2 separate regions of the Homo sapiens genome follow, and region 1 is linked to region 2. The links come from fine-mapping of genetic effects on gene expression. Tissue or cell type: whole blood. Region 2 holds a variant in brackets; the other region holds the start of a gene. All regions are shown on one strand. Distances are from middle to middle.

Region 1 (7,890 bases), 53 kb after region 2:
TACTAAAAATACAAAAATTAGTCAGGTGTGGTGGTGGACACCTGTAGTCCCAGCTACTCAGGAGGCTGAGGTGGGAGAATCATTTGAACCCTGGGGGCAGAAGTTGCAGTGAGCCGAGATTGCACCACTGCACTGCACTCTAGCCTGGGCAACAGAGCGAGACTGTGTTTCAAAAAAAAAAAAAATATATATATATATATATATATGTGTATATATATATATTTTATGCAGCCTCATTACAGCCAAACTTATCTAGGAAAACCAGTCACATACCAGAAAGCAGTAACTTTTTATCTCCATTAAGAATGGCAGGGTGGAACTCTTGGCCCTGCCTCTGATAACCGGGCAGTTGTGTGGACGGCTCAGCCACAGGCTTCTCCCTGTTTCTGTCTCCCTCCCCATCTCTATCCCTTTCTCTGTCTCTCTCTGTTTGTCTCTGAGTCTCTCTCTGCCTGTACACATGTGCGCATATGGGTCTCACACACACTCACCTGCTCAAGCTCTTCATCTTCAAATGCTCCATCACAAAGGCGGCCCCACCTCCCGGCAGGTCGATGACCTTCATGGGCCTCGGCACCCGCACCAGGCCCGTGCTCCTGAGGGCCTCCAGGCTGGCCACCTCCCCCTCAAACATCTGCCGGGCCTGCATCCAGAACACAGCCTTGTCAGCCTTGTTGACTCAGCCAGGGCCTCTGCCCACTGGGCCCTTGACAGAAGCTACCACGTGGGAGTCACAAGGACCTTCATTCACTGATAGCTGGCTCTGGCTGGGAGCTGGCGTCCACCACAGAGGGCAGGGTGCAGAGGGGCCCCCCGTCGGAGACGAGAGGCTGCAAGGCTGAGGCTGAGCCTGGGCCGTGAGGGGTGTGGGGTCTGCAGGCTGCTGTGACAGGAGGATGCACAGGCCACGTGTGGGTGCCCGGGAGCACTGAGGGCGTGGGGAGGTGTGAGTGAACCAAGGTCCAGAGCTGGACCCCCGGGCTACCCACCTTCCTTGCTGCCTCTTAGGGTGGGGCAGCCACAGCAGAGGCCTCACTGGAGCTAACTTGGGCACACACGTCAGGCAGGGAAGAAGAGGGCTGGGCCCATCAGGCGGGGCCTCAGGTCCAGGGCAGGGGCTGGGAAGGTAAAAGGCACGGCACACCCGGCCGGCCCCCAACGCCTCCCGTGGGACCTGGGCCTTCCTGTTTCTGAAATATTCCCACAAACATTCCAGTTTTCAGTTAGGTGAACACTCACCTCACGTACAGTACACATTGGTTGAAAACATGCATTGACGAACGTGGTCCATGAATACCTTGGCCTATAGAATTGCATGTTTGTTTTGAGACAGGGTCTCACTCTGTCACCCAGGCTGGAGGGCAGTGGCATGATCTCGGCTCACGGCAGCCTCCGCCTCCTGGGTTCAAACGATTCTCCTGCTTCGGCCTCCTGAGTAGCTGGGATTACAGGTGTGGGCCACCCCACCCCGCTGTGTTTTTCTGTATTTTTACTAGAGATGGAGTTCCACCGCCGTGCGTGGTGGCTCGCACCTGTAATCCCAGCACTTTGGGAGGCCGGGGTGGGCGGATCACAAGGTCAGGAGATTGAGACCATCCTGGCTAACACGGTGAAACCTCGTCTCTACTAAAAATACAAAAAATTAGCCAGGCAAGGTGGCGGGCACCTGTAGTCCCAGCTACTCGGGAGGCTGAGGCAGGAGAATGGAGTGAACCGGGAGGCGCAGCTTGCAGTGAGCCGAGATCCAGCCTGGGCGACAGAGCAAGAGTCCGTCTCAAAAAAAAAGAGATGGAATTTCACCATGATGGCCAGGCTGGTCTCAAACTCCTGGCCTCAAGTGATCCACCTTTCCTCAGTCGCCCAAAGTGTAGGACTGCATGTTTAAAAAAATCAAACCTCATGAATGAGACCAAAGCATCTGCTGGTGCACACGAACAGAACGCCCTTTCCTTCAAAGTACCCCAGGGAAAGCCCAGGCACAGCCTCCCCAGCCTGGCAGCCCTGGCCAGCCTGCACCGAGGGTGGGTGTGAGTGTCCACAGGTGGGAGGGCGGCCGGCACACCCCAGCCCTGCTCCAGGGCGAGCCCCCCATGCACCAGGCCAGGAACTCCCGGCCTTGGGGCTGCTAAGCCCCAGGGGCCCCAGCATCACCTGCTCTTATGCATGGACTGAGCAGCTACTATGTGCCGGCCCCTCGTGGGGGTGGGAGGGAAGGAGGGGTCTCACCCTGCAGAGCTTTCAGGACCAGCTGAGGAAGTTTCCCAGAGCCCGTGGGAAGCCTGAACCAAAAACTGCTTCCCTGTGAGTAGGACTCCCCACTTTGAGGGATTTGGTTCTGAGCCGGCAGAGCAGGTGATGCCGGAGGATCCGATCGCACGCCCAGGCTGCATGGCTCTGGTGTTCCTCCTGCCAGCACTCCCCACCAGGACCCCTGCTGCCCCTCAGAGAGCTCCCCCACCAGAGTGTGCAGGGCCTTCTGAGCCCACTCGGGCCGGGAGGGCACCCAGGCCTGCCTTTCTCCACCTGCCGGCTCTCAAGGCTGAAGCTAACCTTCTCCACTTCCTCCGTTAACATTTTCCATACTTTTTTTTTTTTGAGACGGAGTTTCCCTCTTGTTGCCCAGGCTGGAGTGCAATGGCGCGATCTTGGCTCACTGCAACCTCCATCTCCTGGGTTCAAGCAATTCTCCTGCCTCAGCCTCCCGAGTAGCTGGGATTACAGGCCAGTGGCACCACATCCGGCTAATTATTGCATTTTTTGGTAGAGACGGGGTTTCACCATGTTGGCCAGGATGGTCTCGAACTCCTGACCTCAGGGATCCACTCACCTCGGCCTCCCAAAGTGATGGGATTACAGGTGTGAACCACCGCGCCCGGCCTTCCATACATTCTTAAACAGAACTATTTTCAGCAGGAGATAGAAATCAGGTCTAAACACAGACAAGGCCTGTGGGAAGGAGAACGCTGGCCTGGCCCGTGGGGTCCCTGCCAGGGGCCCAGCCATGTCTCTGCTTCTTTCCCACTGCCAGGAGGACGGTGGGCTGAGAGGGGCGGCCCAGAGCTGAGCCAAGGACCCCAAGCCTCACATCCCCCGACGCTTGCTGGATAGGAAAGTTAAAACCACCCCTAGAAGCCTGTGCGCTGCGCATGGAGGCCAAAGGAAGGTCACGGATCGTGCAGACACAAACCTTCACAGAACGCTTGAGCCGGGCTCACCCAGCAGGTGCCACCTCCCAAGGGCCAAAGCTGACCCCTCCCCAGGCCCAGCCCCAGGAAATGCGCCTGCCCCCGACCCCTCCGCCTTCCCAGGCCCCGCAGAGACCCGCAGAGCCCCCGCCTGCGCACGGGCCAGCACCTGCGTCCTGCGGTTGACTTTGACGAACACTGGGCCTGCGTCCGTGTCGTAGGCTCGGCCCTCGCTGATGCAGCCGGCGCCGGGGCCGCCGAAGGCCCGCAGGGTCGCGGTGCGCAGCTCGGCGCGCAGCAGCTGCTCCATGGAGTGCGGGGCGCGGGACTCTGCTCGCTCGGAAGCCCCTGTCGGCTGAGGCGCTGCGGGGCGGGGCGGGGCGGGAGCGCGCGGCGCGTGACCCCGGGCGGCGGGAGGGGCGGCCTCAGGCGGGCTCGCCGCGCGCTCCCCGCGTTCGTCCGGCTTCGCGCTTCCTGCGCCCGGGATTCGGGGGAAGCAGCCGGGAGTCCGCGCAGCTCTTCGCGGGCGCGCTGGGGCTTGAGCTCCCTGCAGGGACCCGGTATCCCTGCCCCGCAGCGGACGCAGGTCCGGCCCTCGGCCCGGGCGCTGGTCACAGGCCTGGCCGGCTTCCCACACTGCAGACCAGGCCGGGCCCAGCGGCCCCCGTGATGACGTGGGGCTTGCGCACTGGGACGCCAGGTGCCGATCGGAGAGAGAGGCTGACGTGGGGGCTCCGATGGCACGCGCTGACCCGGCCCAGGGTGGGGCTGCTGATTCCAGGATGTCCTGGGAAAGGGACTTGAGACACAGGAATGCCCACGCGCGCCCATGCATGCATACACGTGGGTACACACGCGTGCACACGAGCAGGTGCGCACCTGAGCCCAGTCCGTGCTGAAGTCATTTGACGTGAGGTTTTTTTATTGTTTGTTTTTTGTGTTTTTAAGAGATGGAGTCTCTGTCTCCCAGGCTGCAGTGCAGTGGCGCGATCTCGGCTCACTGCAAGCTCCGCCTCCCGGGTTCAAGCCATTCTCCTGCCTCAGCCTCCCGAGTAGCTGGGACTACAGGCGCCCGCCACCACGCCCGGCTAATATTTTTGTATGTTTTAGTGGAGACAGGGTTTCACCCTGTGAGCCAGGATGGTCTCAATCTCCTAACCTCGTGATCCACCCGCTCGGCCTCCCAAAGTGCTGGGATTACAGGCGTCAAGCCACCGGCCCGGCCTGCCCAGCTACATTTTGTAGTTTTAGTAGACATGGGGTTTCCCCATGTTGGCCAGGTGACCTGCGTGCCTCAGCCTCCCAAAGTGCTGGGATTACAGCCGTGAACCACCACGCCCGGCCATGCATGAGGTTTTAATCAATAAATCTGTTTTTTTTAGGGCCCCAACAATTGTCTTTTCCCACAGAGATGCAGGGGTCCTGCCGCGGGGAGGGAGCCTTTGGGAGCTGCCTATCCCCGCGGTCCTGCCCACTTGCTCAGCTGGGCTGGGGTCATCGGGAGGCTCCTTAACTCCTACATCTGGCACCTCGGCCAGGATCACTGGAACCTGGGCTTAGCGGTCACTGTCAAGCAGGACATGTCCATGTGGCCTCCTGGTGTGGCCTGAGCTTCCCTGAACATGGAGGCCAGGTTCCAAGAGTGAGCACTGGGAGAGCCAGAGCTCCCAGAGAGCTGGCAGAAGCAAAGGCCTTTTCTGACCTGGCCTCAGAAGCCACACACCATCATTTCCACCTCCTTCCATCGGTCTCCAAAGCCGCAATCAAGGCAAGGGGATCCGCAGCCACCTCTTTTTTTTTTTTGAAACAGGGTCTTGCTCTGTCACCCAGGCTGAAGTGCAATCTCGGCTCACTGCAACCTCCACCTCCCGGGTTCAAGCGATTCTCCTACCTCAGCTTCCTGAGTAGCTGGGATTACAGGCACGCGTCACCACGCCCCGCTAATTTTTGTATTTTTAGTAGAGACGGGGTTTCACCATGTTGGCCAGGATGGTCTCAAACTCCTGGCCTCAGGTGATCCGCCTGCCTCAGCCTCCCAATGTGCTGGGATTACACATGGCACCCGGCCAAGCAGCCACCTCTTGACAGGAGTGGCAGGGCTGCCGCAGAACAGCAGGTAGGACAGGAGGATGACTGTGGTGTCTGCAGAAAGGGCATGTGCCAGTCCCTGGCTTTTTCTCATCTGAAGCCCACCCTGCTATCGCATCTTGACAGAAGGTTCCTGACAGGCCAGTGTGAGCTCTCGTACGTCTGTAAATTTCTTTCTTCCTAGTTGACAGTTTGGCTGGGTATCAAATTCCAGCTTGGAGATCAGACCATGTTCTTTAGGAACCAAGAAGCTGCCAGCTCCAGTTTTGATGTTGAGAAGCTTATGGCCATTTCAGTTCTTATTCTTTGTGTGGAAACTGTTCTATCTCTGCAGGCTTTTAGGGTCTTCTCTGTGACACCAGTGAAAAATTCCCCAGGGAGGTGTCAGGGTGAGTCTCCTGTCATCCCCTGAACAGGACTGGTGGGTCCTCCAATCCTGGGACAGCTTTTAGCCCTTCATGGCGTTCTCCCTCTGTATTCTTGGTTCTCTTTTTTGGAATTCCAACACTGTGGTCTAGAGTCAGTCCTCTCTGTTACTGCCTCAAAGCCCCTTGTAATTTTTCTTCATACAACTCATGAGTCTACAGTCAGATATTAGGCGTCACACAGAGAACCATACGAGTGCTCAGGTCTCTCAGTGAGAAGAGGTGCCTGAATGAAGAAACAGATATGCAGGCACCAGGCTAGGAAGTCCTCTATGTGGGGGGTTAAGAGCTGTTGAAGATTCAAGGGCAGGGCAGTTAAGTGATCCCAAGTTTCTTAGAGAATTAGTAGAGTAAATTGTATGGTGTGCAAATAATACTGTTTTTAAAACGACCTGTATCGGCTGGTTGCAGTGGCTCATGCCTGTAATCCCAGCTCTTTGGGAGGCCGAGGTGGGTAGATCACAAGGTCAGGAGTTCAAGACCAGCCTGATCAACTTGGTGAAACCCTATCTCTACGAAAAATACAAAAAAATTTTAGTCGGGCATGGTGGCACACACCTGTAATCCCAGCTACTTGGGACGCTGAGGCAGGAGAATTGCTTGAGCCTGGGAGTGGAGGTCGTACTGAGCCGAGATCACGCCACTGCATTCCAGCCTGGGTGACAGAACAAGACTCCGTCACAAACAAAACAGAACCTGCCCTCTGTCCGGTTTCCCGTTCTGGGAGTGGTACCACCCATCTTTTTCCCCATCTGCCTGGATGTCTTAGTACAGGGCCTGGTCTGCGGTGCTGGTCAGGTGTCGGGGCCACCCATGCTTGTGATCCTACCATCAGCCCAGAGGAGAGGCGTGGACGGAGTAAAGGTGGGATGTGGACCTCAAGCTGGAGGAATCAAGGAGGACCCAAGAAAGGGGCCTGGCACAGACATGGGCAGGGTGTGGGGAGACCACAGGACAGAGCTGAGCCTGGCTACAGAGCTGGCGCCACCCAGGCCTGGGGTGTGGGCTTGATGAAGGAAGTCTGAGAATGATATCCTAACCTCACCCACCCTCCCCATCTCCTCTCGGCTCCCCTGGGCCACCCCAAGCAGAGGCCAGCTGGTTAATGGAGTGGTTCAGGCAGAGGCGTGGATGGGTGGAGGTGGGATGTGCAGACGTGGCACAGGCTTCAGTGAAATACGTGGACAAGCCGGTGGCACTGCTCCCTCTCTCTCACCACCCTGTCCTGGCCCCTCCATGGCTCCTGGGCCTTTGCCCTTCTCACAGTCCTGCTTACCCACTCACAGGAAAGCCCCCGCCAGCCCTCTCCCTGCTGCCTGGAATTCCCCCTCCAATATACCCCTTACAGTGCACCCCTACATCATCTTTCCAAGATACAGGTCTTCCCCACCCCGAGATGGAGTCTTGCCCTGTCTCCAAGTTGGAGTGCAGTGACACGATCTCGGCTCACTGCAACCTCCGCCTCCCGAGTTCAAGCAATTCTCCTGCCTCAGCCTCCCGAGTAGCTGAGATTGCAGGCGCACGTTACCACGCCCAGTTAATTTTCATATTTATGGTAGAGACAGGGTTTTGCCATGTTTGCCAGGCTGGTCTCGAACTCCTGACCTCAGGTGATCCGCCCACCTCGGCCTCCCAGAGTGCTGGGATGACAGGCGTGAGCCACTGCGCCTGGCCGCTTTAGGCGCACTTTCATTAAAAGGATGAAAAGTAAAACGCTTTGGGACAGAAGGCTTGTCTTCAGGTATCTAAAGATTCACTTCTGTGGAAAAGCTGACGCTCTGACTGTGTTAGATTAGGTGTTTTGATATAATCCCACTTACAGTAAGAAATAAAAAGTGGAGCCACATTGCCCCCAAGATCCCAAAGATGAGAACTGAGAGTCCTGGATGGGAGCTCAGGGCAACTACCATTTCCCTGGACTTCCTCCCCGGAGGTCCTAGCGATGTTCACGGCTGCCCAAAGAGAACAAACCTCTTCCAGCTGTTCCCTTGACCGAGGAGTCTCGGAGCTGTGTCCAGAGCCCAGTCCCTCTGTGCTTTCAGATGTCAACACAGCAGCCTGCAAGGACATAGCACACAGCTGTCCCTTAAAACCATGTCTCCAGGCCGGGCGTGGTGGCTCACGCCTGTAATCCCAGCACTTTGGGAGGCTGAGGTGGGTGGATCACGAGATCAGGAGTTCAAGACCAGACT
Region 2 (7,890 bases):
GCAGCAGGCCGCACCACCTGGCCTGGGAGCAGCAGGCCACACCATCTATGTTTAAGTGCACGCTACGGTGTTCACACGACGACACTGCCCAACGACGCAGTTCTCAGGACTACCCTCATTGTTAGGGGACGCATGACTGTTTCATGACTCACTCAGCATTTTAAAATGTTCTCAGCAGCCCACGTAGTGACCTCACAGCCATAAACAGCCAGCAGCATTACAGTATTCCAGCTTAAACAACTCCCCCATCACTGAGCCTTCTGGCTGCTATTCCGAGCTCATTCTGCACAGCCCATCTTTGCATGACAGGGACTTATGACTGTGCTCCCGTTCAGGTGTGTGTGACCACCTCTGGGGTGTGCCCCCTGCCCAAAGGCAACAGTTCCCACAGAAGAGAGGAGCAGCGAGCCCACGCACCTTCCAAGGCCCAGCAAAAGCTCGCAAAAGTGAACCACCACAGAGGTAAGATGCTAGAAAAGAGGTTAATGATCCATGGCCGGGCACAGTGGTTCACGCCTGTAATCCCAGCACTTTGGGAGGCCGAGGCAGGCAGATCACGAGGTCAGGAGATCGAGACCATCCTGGCTAACACGGTGAAACCCCATCTCTACTAAAATACAAAAAAATTAGCCAGGCGTGGTGGAGGGTGCCTGTAGTCCCAGCTACTCAGGAGGCTGAGCCAGGAGAATGGCGTGAACCCGGGAGGCGGAGCTTGCAGTGAGCCGAGATCGCGCCACTGCACTCCAGCCAGGGCAACAGAGCGAGACTCCGTCTAAAAAAAAAAAAAAAAAAAGATGCAAGAGACACAATTCCTGCCACAGAAAGCCTGAAAACAAACCAGACAAAATAGAATTGTATGCAGCTCCCAAGCCACCAAGCAGCCCACGGGCTCAGCGGCAAAGGGAGGGCAACGGCGGCAGGGAGACCACAAAGAGCAGTGGCTTTGCAGGGACCTGAAGGGGCATTGGCCTGGGAAGCAGGGGGCTCAGGCTCCAGCGTCTGAGGTCAGAGAGGGGTCTGAGCTTCTCTGCAGTGCAGGTGGGGGTGGCACAGCTCTGAGCCCAGCAGGAGGAGGATCCACCAACCAGGAGGCCAGTGGATGTGGTTATCCACTGTGGACACCATGTGGAAGAGAAAAAAGCAGACACATAGAGGCAAGGAAGGAAGAACGGGCAGAGACAAGGACAAGGCTGTGCTGATGCCACATCTCCCCCGGACGGCGCTGCTGACATATGCTGGGGGCGGCAGGGTGCACAGGGGTCCCACGGGCTGGCCACTGAGCAGCTCTGCCAGGGCAGAAACAAGCATGAGGACGGAGAGCATGGCTGAGAGCCACCTGCCACCTGGGGAGCCCATGGAGGCCGGCGAGCCAAGCAAAGACACCAGGACACACGGGGGGATGGGGAACCCCAGGCGTGGGCCACAGCCTGAGCCCTCCTGCTTCCGAGGCCAAGATGAGGCCACCCACTACCCAGGCCACAAGCTTCCGAGGCCACGCTTTACCCAGGCCACAGGCTTCCGAGGCCACCCTTTACGCAGGCCACAGGACAGCAGGTGTGCTGCCAGGATCAAGGGCACAGAGGCAGCATGGGACAGAGTCTGGCACTCTATGAATGGATGGCTCACACCCTCCACCAGCACCTTTACTGCAGCCGACAGCCACAGGAGAGGCGGGAGGGTAGTCGGGGAGCCCAGGGCCTCCAGAGGGAACACTTCACAGAAGGAAATGGCTCCCACCTGGACCAGGCGGCAGAGCGGGACAGACTCAGGATGACGTGAAGCACAGAGCCACGTGCTGGGACAAGGACCCCCAGGACAGGGTGGCGGCGCAGCCACATGAGAACAGATGAGCAATGAACCAGGAAGGAGACATGTCAGAGCCACGTCCACACAGGCAGGTGTGAGCGGACAGCGGGAGGGAACACGGCGTCTCGGGGATGAGCCCGGCTCCTGGGCCGTATGCACGGACAGCAGCACAGAAGCTCCCATTTGTTGCTGGGCTCCCGGGTAAACAGGCCAGGAGGGGAAAGTGATGGTACAACAGGTGTGACCTGGGACTTGCGGGTTCTGAAGTGTCACACGTGTACCCAACGGGTCCACAGAAGGAGGGCTCGAGAACCAAGGACAGAAATCAGGTAATAAAGGTCAAGGGTGAATCAGAGCTGAGATATCAACAGCCAGGACCAAAGCCTGAGGGACATCTGCCTTAGAGGGAAGGTGCCTCTAAGGTGACTGCGTGGGCAGTGAGGCATCACGGGTCTGTGAGCCAGGTGAGGGCGGGGCAGGGGAGAGGGCAGGGGCACCCCAACCTGCACAGGGGCCACAGGTCAGGACGACTGGGGCAGGGGCCACTGAGACCCAGCTCTAGCCCACTCAGCAGCAGCCCAGCCCAGCTCTCTGCCTGTCTCTTCCTCATCTAAGAACTGAGCGGGGTGAGGCTGGTGACCCGCCAAGCCCCCTCCCCGTCTAGCACATGACCCCGCGACGGGCTGCCTGTGAGCACACGTCTGTGAGCAGGTCGCGCCACCTCAGCAGGGATGGGCCAGGGCTGATGGGGACTCAAAGGCGTGCGGCTCACCATGCAGGTTTCTGTAAGACTCACGGCACTGTGCCCGCCCCACATAAAATGCTGAGTGATGGGAAATGAGTGTTAGGAGCTGGCTGCTCCAGGTCTTTCCTTAACGCCACGAGGAGACCGAACCAGCGTGGCCTGGGGTACCTCGTTTCACCCAAATGCTACAGGAGCATGATCTCTGGAAAGTACCCACATTCAAACTGCTCTTGTCCTATTTTCTCCATCCAAAACCTTGCCCCAAGAGAGCACTACAACTAAAAAGGACCACGTGGGTCATCTTCCTCTGGCCACACTGAACCCTAAATGAAACAGTAGGGTGCTGTTCCCCAAATCTGAAGAGAAATCAAAGCCTAAATGTGAAATGTTTTAGATAATCAGCTGTCTTCTTTCATCTTCAAAGACTGACTGTGCTAATTAGCCTCACACCAGCCTCTGCGGTGAGAGGTCTGCTGCTTCCCTCCCAGGTGGGGCGGGCGCTGGTGCTCACCCTGGCCTCAGGTCACAGGAGAGACGGAGTCAGCAAAGGGCCTGGGCACAGCTCACAGCAGCTCAAGCCCTGGTTCCCGGCCCACACACTCTTGGCCACAACCACTCCTACTTGGGGACCTGGCTGCTTTTATTAACTATAAAAAAGCAGAGTGGCTTCAGCACCTCTCTTCACAAGGGCCGAGCGGGAGCTGGGAGTGAGGCTGACAGTGCCAGCGTTCTTTGGCTTTCTTGGTTTTTAATGCTGTTGTGTGTGACTATTTTATCCTTTAACAAGAGTTGTGCTTTTGTCAATGATAAAAATAAAAAGAAACCGCACTGCAAAGGGGAGACTCGAGCCTAACAGCCGATAAGGGGAAGAGCATCCTATTACCACTTTCATAGTCAACAGCCCCGTCTCGCAGTCCGAGTCCCCCAGCCCCGCCGCCGCCTCCCAGCCATTGTGAGAACACACAGGGAGAAACCCACTCCACACAGTCGACAATCTTCCAATCAGAGCACTAGAAACCAAGAGAGCACAACTATCAATCAGCAAGCAGAGTCACACATGAAATGACAGCCATTTTCCTTTTTGTAAATTTTTTTTTAGATGGAGTCTTGCTCTGTTGCCCAGGCTGGAATGCAGTGGCGCCATGTCGGCTCACTGCAACCTCCACCTCCCGGGTTCAAGCGATTTTCCTGCCTCAGCCTCCCAAGTAGCTGGGATTACAGG[C/T]GCGCACCACCATGCCCAACTAATTTTTTGTATTTTTAGTAGAGACAGGGTTTCACCATGTTGGCCAGGCTGGTATCAAACTCCTGGCCTCAAGTGATCCACCTGCCTCGGCCTCCCAAAGCGCTGGGATTACCGGCATGAGCCACTGTGCCCAGCCCATTTTCCATTTTTAATGTGTTTTTCTCCTTCCTTGAATTTCCTCAATTTGCATTAATCTTAATGCTTAAATTGGGACTAAACCAAAGCGTGTTTTTAAAGCTGAAGTACAGGGGCCTTCCAGGGAAATTACATTGCCAAACACTTGCTTCCCTCCCACAGGAGTTAAAAACCCTCACTGCAAGGGAACTACGCTTCGAGGGAAATGAAGATCAAATCCTGGTTTCGATGGTACTTGTTGAGAGTTCACCTGTTTCGCCCACAGTAATGAACAGGTGGATGACAATGAAGCCAAGTGCATCAAAGGAAACAGATGAAACCCTAAGCAGAATCCACCTGCAAGTTTCATCATGTACAGCAGGCGCCCGGCCTCTGCCTGCAGCTCTGCCAAGCCCAAGGTGAAACCTCCCACCCGCTCAGCACCCAGCACGACTTCCTCCTGCTGAGGCAACCTGGATCAGACCAAACGGACCCTTCCAAGAGACAGAAGGAAACAACACACATGACTCTGGAAAGACTCGAGATGCTCCAGCAGCCGCCCAGGGCTTCAGACGCTCTGGAAGGGACGTGCTGGCCCCAGGAGCTGCCAGAAGCCCGGCCCCGCCAGGCGTTGCTTCACGGCAGTTTCATTCATTCCCTTCCCAGGGATTTCAGCCGGCTGCGTCAGACAATTGCTCACTCTTGCTGAGGGCAAATCTCTGAATAGTTCTGAGGTGCTGCTGCCAAACCGCCTGGGTGCTCTGCCCTAAACGGCAGGACAGCACGCCTCACTCTTTGCCAGCATATGCCGGGGGGTGGCACAGGGCTCGGCTCTCCTAAGCCTTTGAGAAGACCGTTTTACACCTCGGGAGGAAGGGGAAAAACGAATGTCTCTCCACCTCAACGTGGAACTTGGAGATGTCAAAATAAAAAGCACTTCCCCACTCCTGGCTGGTTTGACTTTGCTACAGGAATTCCCACCTGTCCCAGCAGCTAGGAGGGGAATGGGGCAGCGAGCCGTCCCGCCCACCCACCCTCTGGGTATTCCAAATGCAGGCTGTGCAACACGTGTCTCCCACTTGGGATGGAAGAACAGAAAACTTGGGAACAATCTAGAGAAAACCAACAAGATCATCAAAAAAAAAAAAAAAAAAAGTAAAGAACCGAACCCACAACAAAGAAACTGCAGAACTAGACACATGTGGCCACAAGACCCTCCCAAGCCGAGAAGGACTCGGAGCCCTGCACCCAGGGGACACCGTGGAGCCCTCCAAGGCAGCCTGAACGCAGTGGCCCACAGCCCCTCACCAGGAGGCTGCCTCTCCCACAGCCAGCCTGGCCAGAAGGTGGCACGCCTCACCTGCCTGCAAGTCCCTGGGCAGCCACAGCTGGCTCCAGCCCCAAGGCTGGGATATCCTGCTGACCCAACAGCATGGGGTGGGGACGGCAGAGGAGGGGAGGCTCCCAGGCCAGGCTGACGAGAGCTGCAGGAGACCCCTAGAAGCCCGTTAAGAGACCGGACAGAGATCAAATTTGCCTCCCCTCCCAAAGCAGCACCCACACTCGGGGCAGGGCTAACGGCCTCCCCTGCAGAGGCACCACACTCGGGGCAGAGCCATTGGAGACAACCAGCTCTGGTCACATCCTGTTAGACCTCCCATTTGCTCCCCTGACCTGAGATGTTTTTCCCCCACAGCACTGAGTTTTATTAGGGATTTCATTAAGGTTAAATTTCTAAGGATGAGGGAATCCTAGAGGGCAGAGAAGCCCTCGAAGCCACCTCAGATCCTGTGAGCCACAGGTTCTACGGTGGGATCGCCACCTGGTTCCAGGTGCAGATGATTATAAGGACACTGCTTTGGCCCCACGGGCTGGTAGGCTGGTTAATTCTTCCCCACCCAGAACACGATCATGAAGGCCGTGAAGCTGAAGAGCTGCTTACACAATATTCCAAGAAGCAGGTGTGCGGGACATATCCACATGGATCCTGACACACATGTAGGTGCCAACATTGTCATTTCACCAGTCCAACCTCAGGCCAGGTGGTCCCAGTCACAGCATGGACCCCCTCCCACTGCGATGGGTCGGGTCCAGTGGTCCCAGTCACACAGCATGGACCCCCCTCCCGCTGCGATGGGTCGGGTCCAGTGGTCCCAGTCACACAGCATGGACCCCCCTCCCGCTGCGATGGGCGGGATCCAGTGGTCCCAGTCACACAGCATGGACCCCCCTCCCGCTGCGATGGACGGGATCCAGTGGTCCCAGTCACACATCATGGACCCCCCTCCCGCTGCGATGGGTGGGATCCAGTGGTCCCAGTCACACAGCATGGACCCCCCTCCCGCTGCGATGGGTCGGGTCCAGTGGTCCCAGTCACACAGCATGGACCCCCCTCCCGCTGCGATGGGTCGGGTCCAGTGGTCCCAGTCACACAGCATGGACGCCCCTCCCGCTGCGATGGGTGGGATCCAGTGGTCCCAGTCACACAGCATGGACCCCCCTCCCGCTGCGATGGGTCGGGTCCAGTGGTCCCAGTCACACAGCATGGACCCCCCTCCCGCTGCGATGGGTCGGGTCCAGTGGTCCCAGTCACACAGCATGGACCCCCCTCCCGCTGCGATGGGTGGGATCCAGTGGTCCCAGTCACACAGCATGGACCCCCCTCCCGCTGCGATGGGTCGGGTCCAGTGGTCCCAGTCACACAGCATGGACCCCCCTCCCGCTGCGATGGGTGGGATCCAGTGGTCTCAGTCACACAGCATGGACCCCCTGTCGCTGCGATGGGTGGGATCCAGTGGTCCCAGTCACACAGCATGGACCCCCCTCCCGCTGCGATGGGTGGGGTCCAGTGGTCCCAGTCACACAGCATGGACCCCCCTCCCGCTGCGATGGGTGGGGTCCAGTGGTCTCAGTCACACAGCATGGACCCCCTGTCGCTGCGATGGGTGGGATCCAGTGGTCCCAGTCACACAGCATGGACCCCCCTCCCGCTGCGATGGGTGGGGTCCAGTGGTCTCAGTCACACAGCATGGACCCCCTGTCGCTGCGATGGGTCGGGTCCAGTGGTCTTAGTCACAGCACGTACCCCTTTCCCACTGCAATGGTTCGGGGAGCTGCGGCAGTTGCCACACCCCATGCCACCAGCCGGGTAAGGCTCATGGTCTTCCACACGCATGTCATACTTCTTGGCAGTAGCGGCCCATTCTTCTGGGGTCTTAGGGACCTAAGAGCGTGTCCTTGGTCATGTGGGAGGCTGTCTGTACACCCAGCATCACAAACATTAAGGTGAAGCTACCAGAATTCCCAGGACCCCCACCCTGGCCACTGCCATCTACCCCTTCTTCATGTTTCCTCAGTGAGACCCAAGGCAAAAAATGAAGAATCCAATTGCAACTAAATCCACCACCTTTACCAGAATTGCCTAAAACATAAAACGCACATTCCCTGAGGATCCATGGACCAATGGCACAGTGGGTACGTCCGAGACCTGAGTCCTCCCTGCCCTACCCCTCCACCCCCGTACCCTTCAAGGCCAGCCTCAGCCTGCCCTGACCTCCACGATAGCAATGAATCCTCTTTAGGCATTGAGGATGCTGCCCCAGCACGGCCGGAACGAGGGGCACCTGGGGACACAGACAGCACATCTGTACCTGCAATGCCCAAAAATGCCTGGCATGAGGAGGTCCTCTATTTCATCAGTACGACAGGTATGCCACCAGAAAAATCTTTTTAGAAAGACTCCAGAAAGATGAAAACATTCCAAATTTTGTTTAAAATTTTATTAAAAACTAGTGTTGTGTACCCAAGGGTACTGAAAGTATTAAGTTGGGTTTGTTTTTTCTGTTTTTTTTTTCTGGCAGAGTCTTGCTCTGTCACCTAGGCTGGGGTGCAGTGGCATGATCTCGGCTCACTCAACCTCCGCCTCCCAGGTTCAAGCAATTCTCCTGCCTCAGCCTCCGGAGTAGCTGGGATTACAGGCCCA

Evidence for each region. PIP is the estimated chance that this variant, and not a neighbour inherited with it, causes the effect.
Region 1: FN3K starts here. The variant in region 2 is the best candidate, but not a certain one, in a credible set for the expression of FN3K in whole blood (TOPMed, PIP 0.53).

What each region holds. Positions count from the first base shown.
Region 1 is chr17:82,731,242-82,739,131 of GRCh38, reverse strand. It overlaps FN3K (fructosamine 3 kinase), which reads right to left and starts at 3,517. Exons shown (of 6, transcript NM_022158.4): 1 at 3,355-3,517; 2 at 492-643. The coding sequence starts at 3,495. RefSeq lists enhancers at 1,637-2,348, 2,349-3,061, 3,774-4,486.
Region 2 is chr17:82,783,995-82,791,884 of GRCh38, reverse strand. All of the region lies in intron 7 of TBCD (tubulin folding cofactor D), which reads right to left. Among named protein-coding and RNA genes, the nearest start is that of TBCD, 36 kb to the right of the region's middle. RefSeq lists enhancers at 1,591-2,092, 4,323-4,372. The variant C/T (reference allele first, on the strand shown) is at 3,774.